4 linked regions of the Homo sapiens genome follow. The protein of the gene in region 1 interacts with the protein of each later gene in a biochemical or structural test. Each region holds a gene or a part of one and is shown in the gene's direction. Other genes may lie near its edges.

Region 1 (3,500 bases):
TACAACACGGTGGTTTCTGTCACTCTTTCCCCAGAAAAATGACCCACGTGTTTCCCATTTGTGCTTGTTATTTAGAAAGCCAAACTTGGCCCTGCTGGCAACAAAGTCATCAGTCCCTCTGAAGACAGGAAACAACCTTCCAACAACCTTGACCGAGTGAAACTCACGGACTTCAATTTCCTCATGGTGTTGGGAAAGGGGAGTTTTGGAAAGGTAAGAGGACAGTCGTCTGCAAATTGCAGGGGCTTCTGCAGAGAATGTCGAATCAGTTTTGTTCTCCTCGTAGTTTGCAGAATAGCACATTAGATTTCCCTGTGATTCAAGGTCAGGAGATCAAGACCATCCTGGCTAACACGGTGAAGCCCCATCTCTACTAAAAATACAAAAAATTAGCTGGGCATGGTGGTGGGCGCCTGTAGTCCCAGCTACTTGGGAGGCTGAGGCAGGAGAATGGCGTGAACCTGGGAGGCGGAGCTTACAGTGAGCCGAGATCGCACCACTGCACTCCAGCCTGGGAGACAGTGAGACTCCGTCTCAAAAAAAAAAAAAAAAAAAGATTTCCCTGTGATTTGTACAGTCATCCAGAAGACCACCAGGATGGCTAAATGGTAGAAAGGAGAGGTTTATTGGTGGTATCAGTTTGCAAACCCATAAAAGAAAGTCTATGGTGTGAAATGAAGGTGCCCTCTCTTTGAGGAGAGAAAGGGCAGGTTGGGTTTTATGCCTCACAGGGTCCATGTTACACAGTAGAGTCATCCATATTCAACAGGTTTGGGGGGAAAGCTTGACTTATCTGTGAGGGAAGCCTAGCACAGGCACAATGGATGAACATATATGTAACATGCATCTTATGTTCACTTTGGGGTGGGGACTTAGCATTAAAATGAGGTGGAATTTGCCTAGGCATGGTGGCTCATGCCTGTAATCCCAGTACTTTGGGAGGCCAAGGCAGGTGGACCACTTGAGGTCAGGAGTTTGAGACCAGCCTGGCAAAAATGGTGAAACCCCATCTCTACTAAAAATACAAAAATTAGCTGGGTGTGGTGGTGTGCACCTGTGATCCCAGCTACTCGGGAAGCTGAGGCAGGAGAATCGCTGGAACCTGGGAGGTGGAGGTTGCAGTAAGCCAAGATCATGCCACTGCACTCCAGCCTGGGCAACAGAGGGAGACTCCGTCTCAAAAAAAGTAAATAAATAAAAAAAGGTGGAAGTTGGCTCTTTAGATCAAAAGGTGAACCACAGGACCCAAAAACAGTTTGTGTGCAGGCTCTGCAAGCTGCTGAAACTGGCTTCAGGTCTGCAGTTGCATCACAGAAAAGAATGTTTGTAAGGCCAGTTCTCTGTCCAGTCCAAGTCATAGTGATCTGAGTTGTCAATCAAAGTTAGGAGGGGCCTGATAGCTCCTACTGCTAGGGAGTTTAGCGAGAGTGGTTTATCTTGTAGCTGTAGGGATTTAGAAATTTGCCATGCCAGCTGGGCCCTGAACCCTCAACCCATAGATAACTATTTCCTTAACTTTAATGTTACCAGAAAGGGGTCCTGATCCAGACCCCAAGAGGAGGGTTCTTGGACCTCAAGCAAGAAAGAATTCAGAGCGAGTCCACAGAATAAAGTGAAAGTCAGTTTGTTAGAGAAGTAAAGAAATGAAAGAACAGCTACTCCATAGGCAGAGCAGCAGCATGGGCTGCTTGACTGAGTATACTTAGAGGTATTTCTTGATCGTATGCTAAACAAGGGTTTTATTATTCATGAGTTTTCTGGGAAAGGGGTGGGCAATTCCCAGAACTGAGGCTTCCTCCATCTTTTAGACTATATAAGGTAACTTCTGGGCATTGCCATGGCATTTGTAAACTGTTGGGGTGCTGGTGGGAGTGTCTTTTCACATGCTAATAATGCATATAATGAGCAATGAGGGTAGCCAGAGGTTATTCTCATCGCCATCTTGGATTTGGTGCGTTTTGGCTGGCTTCTTTACTGTATCCTGTTTTATCAGCAGGGTCTTTCTGACCTGTGTCTTGTGATACTAGCCCTGCTGACCTCCTATCTCATCCTGCGACTAAGAATGCCTGACCTCCTGGGAATGCGGCCCAGCAGATCTCAGCCTTATTTTTCCCATCCCTTATTCAAGATGGAGTCACTCTGGTTCAAATGCCTGCGACATTAGGGTCCATCTTAGTCGCTAAAGAGGCATTTATTTGGTCTCTCAGATCAGAGTGCACAGTCCTCACCTGGTTTCTACTTCCTTAAAAGCAACTGCATCCAAAAAGCTATAGTGGGTTCACTGTGTTGTTACTATTTCTCAGTGTTCAGAACAGAAGGGATGCTCAGAAATGCTGGTTGATGAATAGTTTTCACAACTAAAAATTAAATGTTCACTTGTAGTAAGCAAATACAATCATTAAGAGATACTGACATGGGGTCTTCAGCAATTTGCCTGTATCTCCATTCGGTTTCTGTGGCCCCACATTTCATAGACGCAGGAACTGATTTCAAGTCTAGGTTCTTGACTTGAGAGATTATAAATGTCAGTCAGCTTTCACTCTAAGGATACTCCTGAAAAATGTGCATTATTCCAGACTAATCCTGATAGAGAATGTTGAGTATTCATTTTAGCAGCCAAAATAGTGCCATTATGTGGCAGTGGCCTATACCATTTACAAATCTTGGCAGCATTGAAGTTTTGCAAATGCTGGAGGGACTGAATTTGTAGTGATGTGTAGAATTTACAAATTTGCACATAAAGTTTAATATTTTTATGTTCCACATTGACAAAGGTGCACAAACTGTCACTGAGCCGTCACCTGGCCTGGTTCCTTCCCTCTGCCCCCCAAGATATGTGCTTACAAGTGTTCAGGTTGTTCTTGACGTGTTCTCAGGTGATGCTTGCCGACAGGAAGGGCACAGAAGAACTGTATGCAATCAAAATCCTGAAGAAGGATGTGGTGATTCAGGATGATGACGTGGAGTGCACCATGGTAGAAAAGCGAGTCTTGGCCCTGCTTGACAAACCCCCGTTCTTGACGCAGCTGCACTCCTGCTTCCAGACAGTGGTAAGGACCCTGGGAATCCCTGCGATGCAGTACCCAGCTCTCAGAGCTACGCCTCAGCCCAAAGCTTCTTAGCATCCTTGTTCCTTTGGAGAAGGCTGGAGAAAGGTGTGTTGTGATGTCAAGCAGAGGTGACTGGGGACCACCTCCCACCTCTCTCACTGGTAGATTTGGGGCATGCCTTCTCTGTGATGTCCTCTGCTTGGCATTCATGCCATTTAATTCGGCAAACATTTCTTTTTCTTTTTCTTTCTTTCTTTCTTTTTTTTTTTTTTTTTTGAGACAGGATCTCACTCTCTCGCCCAGGCTAGAGTGCAGTGGCACAGTCACGGCCCACTGCAGTCTCAAGTAGTTGAGACCACAGATGTACCCCACCACACTCAGCTAATTTTTGTATTTTTAGTAGAGACGGGGGTTTCACCATGTTTCCCAGGCTGGTCTTAAACTCCTGAG
Region 2 (3,500 bases), on another chromosome or scaffold:
GCTTGGCCTCTAACTGTTTCTATTAACTATCAAGCAGTCTTTTTTTTTTTTTTTTCCTCCTTCAACAAATGCTGCTTCAGGGAAAATTATTTCTCTACTTGTCTTAGGATATCAGAAATTACTGCGATGGACTCAAAGTTGCTAAGGAATACTTTGAAGTCCTTCCTACACATAGTACTGGTAGTCTGCACATCACATATATTGACATGGTGTCTGAGAGCTTTTTAGAAGTTCAGAGTCTCAGCCTTTACCCAGATAGATGTGCTGACTCAGAATCTGCATTAACATAACATCCCTAGGTGATTTGCATGCACATTACAGTGTGAGAAGTGTCACCCTGGGTGATCTCCTTTCTGTTTGTGGCTTATTCACTTTGACTGTTAAGCTTTGAGCTGGAATGGTGCTGTGTAAATTCCTAATGTCAGTTTATGTTCATCAGTGACTTCACTGGCTGTTTACTAATAGTAATTTCTACAAAGTAATTGTTTTAGATCTTAGAAATGATCCTAGTCATCTTAACACTCAAGAGCTTCATGGTAGTTGGACTTTGAGGAAGAAGTAGAAGGCAATCATAGAAGCTGTGTGAGTGGGTGCTTCTCAGGTGGTAAGGGCCAAGGTGATAGAGACAGCGTCATATATGTGTTAGACACACACTTTGGTCAATTCTGATCGTGATTTGTTCTTTACCCTTTCTGTCCTCCCCATCCCTTTTTGGGCACGTGCAGGCTGAACTTCCTGTACTGATGCTGGGAAGATCATCTGACCTTCGGGCTGGAGAGTTTGTGGTGGCTTTGGGCAGCCCATTTTCTCTGCAGAACACAGCTACTGCAGGAATTGTCAGCACCAAACAGCGAGGGGGCAAAGAACTGGGGATGAAGGATTCAGATATGGACTACGTCCAGATTGATGCCACAATTAATGTAAGTCACTTAGGACAGAGGTGCCCAACCCATGGGCTGTGGACCAGTACAGGTCCATGGCCTGTTAGGAACTGGGCCGCACAGCAGGCTGTGAGCCATGGGCGAGTGAGAATGACTGCCCGAGTTCCACCTCCTGTCAGATCAGTGGCGGCATTAAATTCTCATAGGAGTGCAAACCCTATTGTGAACTGCGCATGCAAGGGATCTGGATTGCATGTTCCTTATAGAATCTAACTCATGCCCGATGATCTGAGGTGGAGCAGTTTCATCCCAAACCACCCCTCCGTCTGTGGAAAAATTGTCTTCCACAAAGCCGGTCCCTGTGCCAAAAAGTTTGGGGATTGCTGACTTAGGAGGCCTTTCCTCAGATCACACAATATTGGCAGTTCAGTGAGAAGAATATGTCAGAGTGAACTTTGGGGATGTCCAGGTTTGGTTGAATCACTGTGGGAGGAATGGAATGCCACTTTGTTAGAGTCTGTCTCGTTCGCTGTGATCGCTGGCATCCATGCTATTAGGTGGTCTGTTGTAGAGGTCACCCCTCCTGTAAGAAGGTGGTGGTCCCTTGGCCAGGCACGGTGGCTCATGCCTGTAATCCCAGCACTTTGGGAGGCCGAAGGGGGTGGATCATGAGGTCAGGCATTCGAGACCAGTCTGGCCAACATGATGAAACCCTGTCTCTACTAAAAATACAAAAATTAGCTGGGCATGGTGGCGGGTGCCTGTAATCCCAGCTACTCAGCAGGCTGAGGCAGGAGAATCACTTGAACCGGGAGGCAGAGGTTGCAGTGAGTCGAGATTGCGCCATTGCATTCCAGCCTGGGCAACAGAGTAAGACTCCGTCTCAAAAAAAAAAAAAAAAAATGAAGGTGGTGGTCCCACTGCTATAGTTCTTTACCTACACTGACTTTGGTATTGGTGATGATAGGGGCACAATTTTGCCGGCCTGGGGGGAATAGGAGCTTGGTGGGCTGCTTTTGGTAAACTGTTTTGGGAGCTATGTGTAAAGGACAAGGGGGAATGTATTCATTAGCTTCACTGATGTCTTTTTCAAATTCTGCTTTTAGTATGGGAATTCTGGTGGTCCTCTGGTGAACTTGGTAAGTGATCACTTTCCTTGTTGCTTCATGTTTCTTCTTAACTTTCAAAGACTTTATTAATTCCAGGCCAGGGGTGGTGGCTCATGCCTGTAATCCCAGCACATTTGGGATGACTGCTTGGGGCCAGGAGTTTGAGACTAGCCTGGGCAAGACAGCAAGACACCATATCTACAAAAACAAAAACAAAAAAGGACTTTACATATTCCATGATGCAGACTTGGGTGCCACTCTTGTGTAGAGAGCTGTGGAATGGTGCTTTTCTGTTCTTGGACCTTAAGTCAATAGTTAGAAAAAATTCAAGATTGTTATCCTGGTGTGTGATCTCATCCCACTGAGAACACTAGGGTTCTAGCTCCGGCTTCCTTTGAAATTTCTCTCTTCCCCGTGCTTTCTGTTTTCATTGGCTAGTTACCCAAAGCCCTGGATTTTATTTATTTATTTATTTATTTAATAGAGACGATGTCTCACTATGTTGCCCAGGCTGGTCTCAAACTCCTGAGTTCAAGTGATCCTCCTGCCTTGGCCTCCCAAAGTGTTAGGATTACAGGCATGAGCCACCATGCTGTGCCAAAAGCCCTGGATATTAAACCCAGGTTTATGCCAAATGACCAGCTTTGCTATGAAATGTAGGTCCTTGAAGACTCCTTGATGCTGCATATGAAGAACTATCTCTCATTTAAAAATGCTAATTACATAATGTCATCTGTCCAGGTTTTTAGTCTTGACCTCTTGACCTGCTTATAGATGAGAGAAAAGCCACAACCAGCACTCCTGACTTCAAGTGAGCTGCCTGCCTTGGCCTCTCAAATACATTGCCGTGTCATGTATTCTTAAATTGTATTCCGTGTCTCTAGTGGAAATGTCAGGGTTTCTAGTTGCCCAAATACATGTGAAAACCTAAGAGAGTGCAATGCTGTTTGACACATAGCATGTGATCATCCTTTCTGAGTCCCTTTGCACTGATTGCTTTTGGTTCCTGTTTAAATATTACATTTGCTTTTAGAATGAATTTTATGCAAAATGATTGTTTTTTTTTTTTTACTCATAGCATTGCATGTCATTTTTCTTTGTTTTGTTCCTGCCTTCTCCATTAGACAATGAGTTTACTAGAGCAGGGATGAAATGCAGAATTTCAGGCCATACCCCCGACCTACTGAATTACAATCTGTAGTTTAACACAATCAGAAATCTCTTTTCTGGCTGGGTACGGTGGCTCACTCCTGTAATCCCAGCACTTTGGGAGTCTGAGGTGGGTGGATCACCTGAGGTCAGGAGTTCAAAACCAGCCTGGCCAACATGGTGAAACCCCATCTCTACCTAACATACAAAAAAAAAAAAAAATTAACTGGGCATGGTGGCATGCGCCTGTAATCCCAGCTACTTGGGAGGCTGAGGCAGGAGAATCGCTTGAACCCGGGAGGCAGAGGTTGCAATGAGCCAAGGTTGCACCAATGCACTCCAGCCTGGGCAACACAGTGAG
Region 3 (4,045 bases), on another chromosome or scaffold:
TCTCCTGCCTCAGCCTTCCGAGTAGCTGGGATTACAGGCATGTGCCACCAGGCCCAGCTAATTTTTGTATTTTTAGTAGAGATGGAGTTTCACCATGTTGGCCAGGCTGGTCTTGAACTCCTGACCTCGTGATCCACCCTCCTTGGCCTCCCAAAGTTCTGGGATTACAGGAGTGAGCCACTGCGCCCAGCCACATTTAAATTTTAGAGTATAATTATTGCTGCTTATAATTAGAAGTGAGAAGACTGTTTTGAAGTAAGGGACTTCCCTGGCCACCCTCGCTAAAATTGCAACCTTACCCTCACTCCATTTCTCCTTCTCTGCTTTATATTTCTCCAAAGCACTTATATGATAATAAACTGTATAATACCGTACTTACTGTGTTTCTCATGTATCCCGGCTACAACTGTCAACTGCGTGGGACTGGTTTTGTCTGTTTTGTTCCCTGCTCTATCCCTGGAGCGTAAAGCAGTGTCTGGTATAGAGTGGATACTTAATAGATATTCGTTGAACCGGGCCAGTGGCGGTGGCTCACGCCTGTAATCCCAGCACTTTGGGAGGCGGAGGCAGGCAGATCACTTGAGGTCAGGAGTTCGAGGCCAGCCTGGCCAACATGGCGAAATCCCGTCTCTACTAAAAATACAAAAATTAGCCGGGTGTTGTGGTGCATCCCTGTAATCCCAGCTACTTCGGAGGCTGAGGCAGGAGAATCGCTTGAACCTGGGAGGCGGACGTTGCGGTGAGCCGAGATCGCGCCATTGTACTCCAGCCTGGGCGACAAAGAGAGACATCGACTCAAAAAAAAAAAAATTCGTTGAACGGAATGAGTGAACAAACAAATGGATGGATGAGTGAATGAATGAACGAAGGAACAAGTGACCGCTCGACCTTCTACAGCGACAGCGGCGCAGGCGCTCCCGCACCAACAGCCCCCCACCCCGCCACCGCCAGAGGGCGCAGACAGGCCGGGTCCCGAGTGTCTGTCCCAGGCCCCCGCCCCACAGGATCCCGGCCCGGGAGCCCCCGATGCAGGGACCCGCCCGGGACTCTGGGTCCCCGCCCATACCTCAACTTCGCACGACTGCGTGCCTCAAGCCGACGCAGCGGCCTACTCTCGCACTGCAGACGGGGAAACTGAGGCCTGAGGCGGCCGGGGTGGGGCAGACCTCCCGGCGAGCCCGAGCCCCCGCCCCCGGCTAGCCCCGCCCTGGCCCGTAAGAAGCACCCGGGGCGCGAGGCGAAGGCGCACAGCGCGGGGCCAGGCTGGGTCCAGCAGCGCGATGGCAGCTCAGCGGCTGGGCAAGCGCGTGCTGAGCAAGCTGCAGTCTCCATCGCGGGCCCGCGGGCCAGGGGGCAGTCCCGGGGGGCTGCAGAAGCGGCACGCGCGCGTCACCGTCAAGTATGACCGGCGGGAGCTGCAGCGGCGGCTGGACGTGGAGAAGTGGATCGACGGGCGCCTGGAGGAGCTGTACCGCGGCATGGTGAGCCCGGGGAGGGCTCGGGGGTGGTCGGGGACAGATAGAGCCCGGGCGCGGAGACCCCACGCCCTTGGGGTCTCGGTGCACACTCGCTGGTGCACGGCCAGCCTGGTCTGCACAAGAGGACGAGCGCCCCAGGGCCGGGCACTCATTGGCCTGGCCATCCGTGCTCTATGGCATTGTGCTTGTGGACACACCGAGAGCAACACACAAAGACTTGGGTCTCCAGAGATGTGTCCAAACGCCTGTGGAGGGCCAGGGGTTTAGCATGAGGAGGGAGGAGGCTAAGTTGAGCTGAAACCGCCACGTCTGGAGAAAGAGTGGGGGAAGGGGGGTGTCATAAAGCCAAACACAGACATGGTGACAGGGGAGATACAGCCACACAGAGACCCACGGCAAAGGAAGCAAAAGCAGACACAGATGTGCACAGTGAAGGAAGCTATAGCCACTCACGGACACAGCCCAGAAGTAACAGCCATGCACAAACCCACAAGGACACAAGCGGGGGCTGGGGGGGGGTCACCTACAGTTCAACATATGCTACAGTCACAGCCACCCGCAGACACAGCGGCATGGGCCACAGCCGTAGGCAGACACAGCACAACCCCACTGGAACACAAAATGACTCAAGTTACGGCCCTTCCTTATCTCCTAAAGAAAAAACTGACCACCTTCAAGCACAAGCGCTGATCCGCAGCCACTCAAAGACATAAAACAACAGAAATTGGCCCAGCACAGTGGCTCACGCATTTTGTGAGGCCGGGGCAGGAGGATTGCTTGACGTCAGGAGTTCAACACCAGCCTGGGCAACATGGGGAAAACCTGTCTCTACCAAAAATCTTAAAACTTAGCCGGGCGTGGTGGCATGCACGCACTTGTAATCTCAGCTCCTCAGGAGGCTGAGGTGGGAGGATTGCTTGAGCCTGAGAGGCCAAGGTCACAGTGAGCCAAGATTGCACCACTGCACTCCAGCCTGGGCAACAGAGCGAGACCGTGTCTCAAAAACAAACAAAACCCAACAGAATTTATAACTACACCCAGACATAAAACTGTGTAAGCACCGGGCACGGTGGCTCACGCCTGTAATCCCAGCACTTTGGGAGGCCGAGGCGGGCGGATCACCTGAGGTCAGGAGTTTGAGACCAGCCTGATCAACATGGAGAAATCCCGTCTCTACTAAAAAATACAAAATTAGCCGGGTGTGGTGGCACATGCCTGTAATCCCAGCTACTCGGGAGGAGAATCGCTTGAACCCGGGAGGAGGAGGTTGCGGTGAGCCGAGATCCCGCCATTGCCCTCCAGCCTGGGCAACAAGAGCGAAACTCCGTCTCAAAAACAAACAAACAAACAAAAAACTGTAAGCTATAGGAACAGGTGGACATACAACTGCAGAACCCACCGCTGCTCACAGGCACACAAGAGCCTAAGCCACAGCTACATGTATTGACACACACAGGTACTTCATCACTTGAGTTTCTGCTTGAAGTCACACTTTCAGTGACTTCTTTTTTCTTTTCCTTAGAGGTGGGGCCTCATTGGCCGAGCACAGTGGCTCACGCCTGTAATCCCAGAACTTTGGGAGGCCAAGGTGGGCAGATCACTTGAGGTCAGGAGTACGAGACTAGCCTGGCCAACATGGTGAAACCCTGTCTCTACTAAAATTACAAAAATTAGCCGGGCATGGTGGCAGGCAGCTGTAATCCCAGCTACTTGGGAGGCTGAGGCAGGAGAATCACTTGAACCCGGGAGGCGGAGGTTGCAGTGAGCCAAGATCGCGCCATTGTACTCCACCCTAGGTGACAGAAGGAGACTTTGTCTCAAAAAAAAGAAAAAAGAAAAAGAGATGGGGCCTCGCTATGTTGCTCAGGCTGATCTTGAACTCCTAGGCTCAAGCAATTCTCTCTTGTCGGCCTCCCAAAATGTCAGGATTACAGGCGTGAGCCACTGCGCCTGGCCTTCTGTGACTTCTGTATGCTACAGTGTACACAGGACCCACGAGTCCTCCTCTTCATGGTGCGACAATGGTGGAAGGCATGGCCCTTCTCCCATGGTGACATGCAGTCCCTCTGTTCTCAGACTCACACCTGGGCCCATACAGGTGAACCAATCTGGTTGCTAGTGGCAGGTGGCATCTATGAGGCCATTCTCAGGTGGTGGGCCCCACAGCTGACTGTGGACACATGCTGATGTGTCACACACCCAAGCCAGAGCCACACACCTCACACCTGCAGGACCACAGTCCACTATACGAAGCCACTGCACGATGCCAGGTCCCTCTGCATCCTCGGCCAGCCCCAGGCCCTTGGCATCAGGCTGTGGCCCTGGCAGAGACTCACACACCTGTGTCCTTGCTGAAGCCCCTTCACCACACATGAACCAGGACCATCCAGCCCTGAAGCCCCAGGCCTGAAGCCGACAGCCGGACTTTGGGTTGGGGAGGAAAGGATTCATAACCCCAAGGCTCTCTTGCTCCCTCGACAGCTGGGGACAGCTGGGTCCTATTCCCAGCAGGGGTACTGAGCCAGCCTGCGCTTGGGCCACTGCCTGTAGAGGCCACACTCAGCGCC
Region 4 (3,500 bases), on another chromosome or scaffold:
TCATGGATGAGTATTTAGTCTGTTTTCTTTTGCAATTTTGAACAAAATGACACTGAACATCCCTGAACACAAATCTTGACACACACACGTGGATATATTGGTAGAATAAATTCTTATAATAGAACTGTGGGGTCAAATTTTCGATTTTGATACTCTCCAAAGAAGTCATACCAGTTCATGCTCTCACTAGTGGTGCAGCAACTAGTACGCGTTTTTGCTGAAAATTTTTATGATGTGTAACATACACATAGAGAAGTGCCCAAATTACAACTGTACAGTTTGAAGAATTTTCACAAACTGAACATACCCATGTACCCAGCACCCAGATCAGAAAACAGGACATCCCTGGCACCCAAGGAGCCTTCTCTCAGCACCCTTGCAGACGGTCTGCCTCAGGCCTTGAGAATGTCTCAAATGAATGTTCCAAGCCTCTGCTCTTTCCCAGACACTGTCCTAGACTCAATACGGGATCCAAGGATGAAAAAGAGGCAGATTGTTTGCAGGAAACTTGCAAATAGTAGAAAGAAGATACAGCCAAAAAGAAATCTTTTACAGGGTGGAATCGCAGAAGAACCATTAGAGAACCGTAAACACAGCGTTAAGGGACAGCAAAGAAAAGGGTTGCCGGCTGGCTGGGAGGGGCTAGAAAGGCTTTGGTGAGAGATCGTGGTGTTTGAGAAGGGCCTTGAAAGAGGGATGGAGCATAGGGAGGAGAAATGGGATAGGCAGGGGTACAGAGATGGGAAGGCAGTAGTCCAGGGGATAATAAACAATACTGTCTGTGACTTAGTAGGGCAAATAGTAGGAGAAGCCGGGAAGCTAGATTGGGGTCCTCTTTAGATGACCCTTTGTGCTGGGATGAAAGTCCAAAAAAAAAAAAAACTACACCACCCCTGCTTCAGGCCCTACTCCGGTTCCATTGTCCAAGCCCAAGCCCCTCGGTGGGCCGGTGGGGAGCCCTTTGTGGTGGTGCCCATCTCCCACCCCACCTCTCCACACTGCATGGCAGACTCCTGGCACCCTCACTGGGCACTGCCCCACCCATTGCCATACTTCCCGTCCGGCAGACCTTCTCCTGGCACTGCCTTGGATCCCAGCAAAAGCAGCATCTCTTCTAGCCTCTGTTCGCTCCCTGGCTACAGTGTTTACCTTTTTTAACAGTGATGATCTGTGAACACATCTATTTCCTGAACAAGACTTTCAGCTGCTCAAAGCCAAGGATGCTGTCTTGTTTTCTGCATCTCCAGCCCCTTGCACAGGGCCTGGGAGTTTCCTAAATGAAAAAGCGAGTGGGAGTTTGTGTTTGATTCAGCTGAGCATGAAGAACGGTTAGAGATTTGAGGGATGATTTTCCTGGATTTGTAGTCTTTGATATTGTTTACCTGGCAGTGGCAAATGTGGAGGGAGTGAAGTGGAGGGATGGGGACTCGTGGTGGCATTGGGAGGTGGGACCCGAGTTGTGCCCATTGCCTCTGTGGCTGCTGGAGGATCGGTTGTCAACACAGTAGTGTCCTTCTGTGCTTGTATGACCCAAGCTCCTAATCCGAAATTTCTCATTAACAGCCCATGAACCCAATTCCAGCACCGTTGCCTCCTGACATACCAAGCTTCAACCTCATTGGTGACAGCCTGTCTTTCGACTTCAAAGATACTGACATGAAGCGGCTTTCCATGGAGATAGAGAAAGAAAAGTATGTAGCCCCCTGTGCCCTGCTGTGGGCAGCTGTGAACTAGACTGAGTGATTGGGGCCTTGGGAAGCTGGGGCAGAGGTGAGAGGTCGCTGCAGCAGCCTGTCATTACTCCTGCAAAGGTTTGCTCTGCTCTTACACCCTGGAGGAAGAATTTCCTTAATCAGAAATTAAGGACAACAGATCAGCATTCATTCTGAACGAATAAAAATAACAATTTTTATCCAGGATAAAAATAACACTTGACTGGTGAGCTGGAGTTTTTGGTGGCTCTAAGCCTCACCTAAAGTGTAGGACTGGGTTGTTAGCATCTCTGAGTCAGTTCAACTGCTGTTATACTACTGGACTGTAGTCACCTCCTAGTTGTGTTCTCCAGCAACTGGGATCTGTGGTGGTTCCCATGTCTAGAACAAACAAAGGTGAGAGAAGAGACTCAGGCTCGAGGCTAAGGAAAGCTGACAGCTGGTGGGGCCACTTTGCTGCAGTGGGTGGCACTGGGCAGGGCCCCAGCATGGCCTGATCATGGCAGCAATTGCTGAGCTGCCCTCCGTCTTCCCTTTATTGTGGGTAGAAGTGGATCAGAGATGGAAAGGAAAGGATCCCCACTGCAGAGGAAATCTAAGCGAGGGCCCCTAGTTCCCAGAGCTAGCGGTAAGTTGGTTAACTGCTGCTGCTTGCTAGAGGACAACCACAGTAGCTACCATGCATTGAGTGCCTGTGTGTCAGGGGTTTTGGCTTTTGTCTCATTTAATTCCTGCTAACTTACAAACATCAAAATGACATCAAAGGTAGGTTTTCATGTTCCCATTTTATAAGTGAGAACTCAGATTTAGAGAGTTTAGTGAACTCCACCAGCATCCCACAGCTGATGCAGAGGGGTTGAAACCCCTCACCCATCTGACTCTGCAGCCCATGTGCTTTTACCATGGGTGGTATCCTCAGGAAAACCCTTTGGGGAAAGTGTCTCCATGGAGTCCAGTATGGGCAACCAGAACCCAGGCTGTTTTTCTTTGGGCTCTCACACTGAGGGTATAGCTAAGTAGCCAATGAACCAGAGCCTCTAGCTGTCATATCTGCTGTCCATGTTCCTTTCACCATTATCCAGACATATACATTTATGTGGTTGGGATCCGGGATCAGGGTGAAGCTGTTCTGTGTCTGCTATTTTATAGTTTGTATTTTGTTACTATCTTAGTTTGTTTTGGCTACTGTAACAAAATACCAGAGGCTGGGTAGCTTATAAACAACAGAAATTTATTTCTTGGCCAGGCACAGTGGCTCATGCCTGTAATTCCAGCACTTTGGGAGTCCAAGGGGGGCAGATCTCTTGAGCCAGGAGTTCAAGACCAGCCTGGGCAACATGGCAAAACCCCATTTCTACTAAGAATACAAAAATTAGCTGGGTGTGGTGGCACATGCCTGTGGTCCCAGCTACTCGGGAGGCTGAGGTGGGAGGATTGCTTGAGCCTGGGAGGCAGAGGTTGCAGTGAGCCCAGATTGCACCACTGCACTCCAGCCTGGGCAACAGAGAGACACCCTGTCTCAAAAAAAAAAAAAAGAAAAGAAAGAAATTGATTTCTCACAGTTTGGGAGGCTGAGAAGGCCAAGATCAAGGCACGGGCAGAGGTGGAGTCTAGTGAGGGCATTCTTGCTGGTTCATAATCAGCCCCTTTTTGCTGCATGCTCACCCAGTGGAAGGGATGAGGGGTCTCTCTGGAGTCTCTTTTATAAGGGCACTAATCCCATTCATGAGGCTCTACCCTCATGACTGCCCAAAGGCCCCACCTCCTGACACTTTTTTTTTTTTTGAG

What was found.
Region 2: the proteins of PRKCA (region 1) and HTRA4 interact in a test that uses a peptide from one of them, tested with the Homo sapiens proteins (one large-scale study listed by IntAct).
Region 3: the proteins of PRKCA (region 1) and PPP1R14A form a complex in vitro, tested with the Homo sapiens proteins (one study listed by BioGRID).
Region 4: of the proteins of PRKCA (region 1) and NF2, one has a biochemical effect on the other in vitro, tested with the Homo sapiens proteins (one study listed by BioGRID).

Annotation. Positions count from the first base shown.
Region 1 is NC_000017.11:66,732,613-66,736,112, forward strand, and holds part of PRKCA (protein kinase C alpha type), read left to right. Parts: intron 1-75; coding exon 76-213; intron 214-2,876; coding exon 2,877-3,050; intron 3,051-3,500. UniProt on the Homo sapiens protein: Calcium-activated, phospholipid- and diacylglycerol (DAG)-dependent serine/threonine-protein kinase that is involved in positive and negative regulation of cell proliferation, apoptosis, differentiation, migration and adhesion, tumorigenesis, cardiac hypertrophy, angiogenesis, platelet function and inflammation, by directly phosphorylating targets such as RAF1, BCL2, CSPG4, TNNT2/CTNT, or activating signaling cascade involving MAPK1/3 (ERK1/2) and RAP1GAP.
Region 2 is NC_000008.11:38,977,228-38,980,727, forward strand, and holds part of HTRA4 (serine protease HTRA4 precursor), read left to right. Parts: intron 1-725; coding exon 726-920; intron 921-1,987; coding exon 1,988-2,020; intron 2,021-2,731; coding exon of another isoform or gene 2,732-2,764; exon of another isoform or gene 2,765-3,258; intron 3,259-3,500. UniProt on the Homo sapiens protein: Serine protease.
Region 3 is NC_000019.10:38,253,575-38,257,619, reverse strand, and holds the start of PPP1R14A (protein phosphatase 1 regulatory subunit 14A), read left to right. Parts: upstream 1-1,245; 5' UTR 1,246-1,280; coding exon 1,281-1,481; intron 1,482-4,045. UniProt on the Homo sapiens protein: Inhibitor of PPP1CA. Has over 1000-fold higher inhibitory activity when phosphorylated, creating a molecular switch for regulating the phosphorylation status of PPP1CA substrates and smooth muscle contraction.
Region 4 is NC_000022.11:29,676,633-29,680,132, forward strand, and holds part of NF2 (merlin), read left to right. Parts: intron 1-1,563; coding exon 1,564-1,691; intron 1,692-3,500. UniProt on the Homo sapiens protein: Probable regulator of the Hippo/SWH (Sav/Wts/Hpo) signaling pathway, a signaling pathway that plays a pivotal role in tumor suppression by restricting proliferation and promoting apoptosis.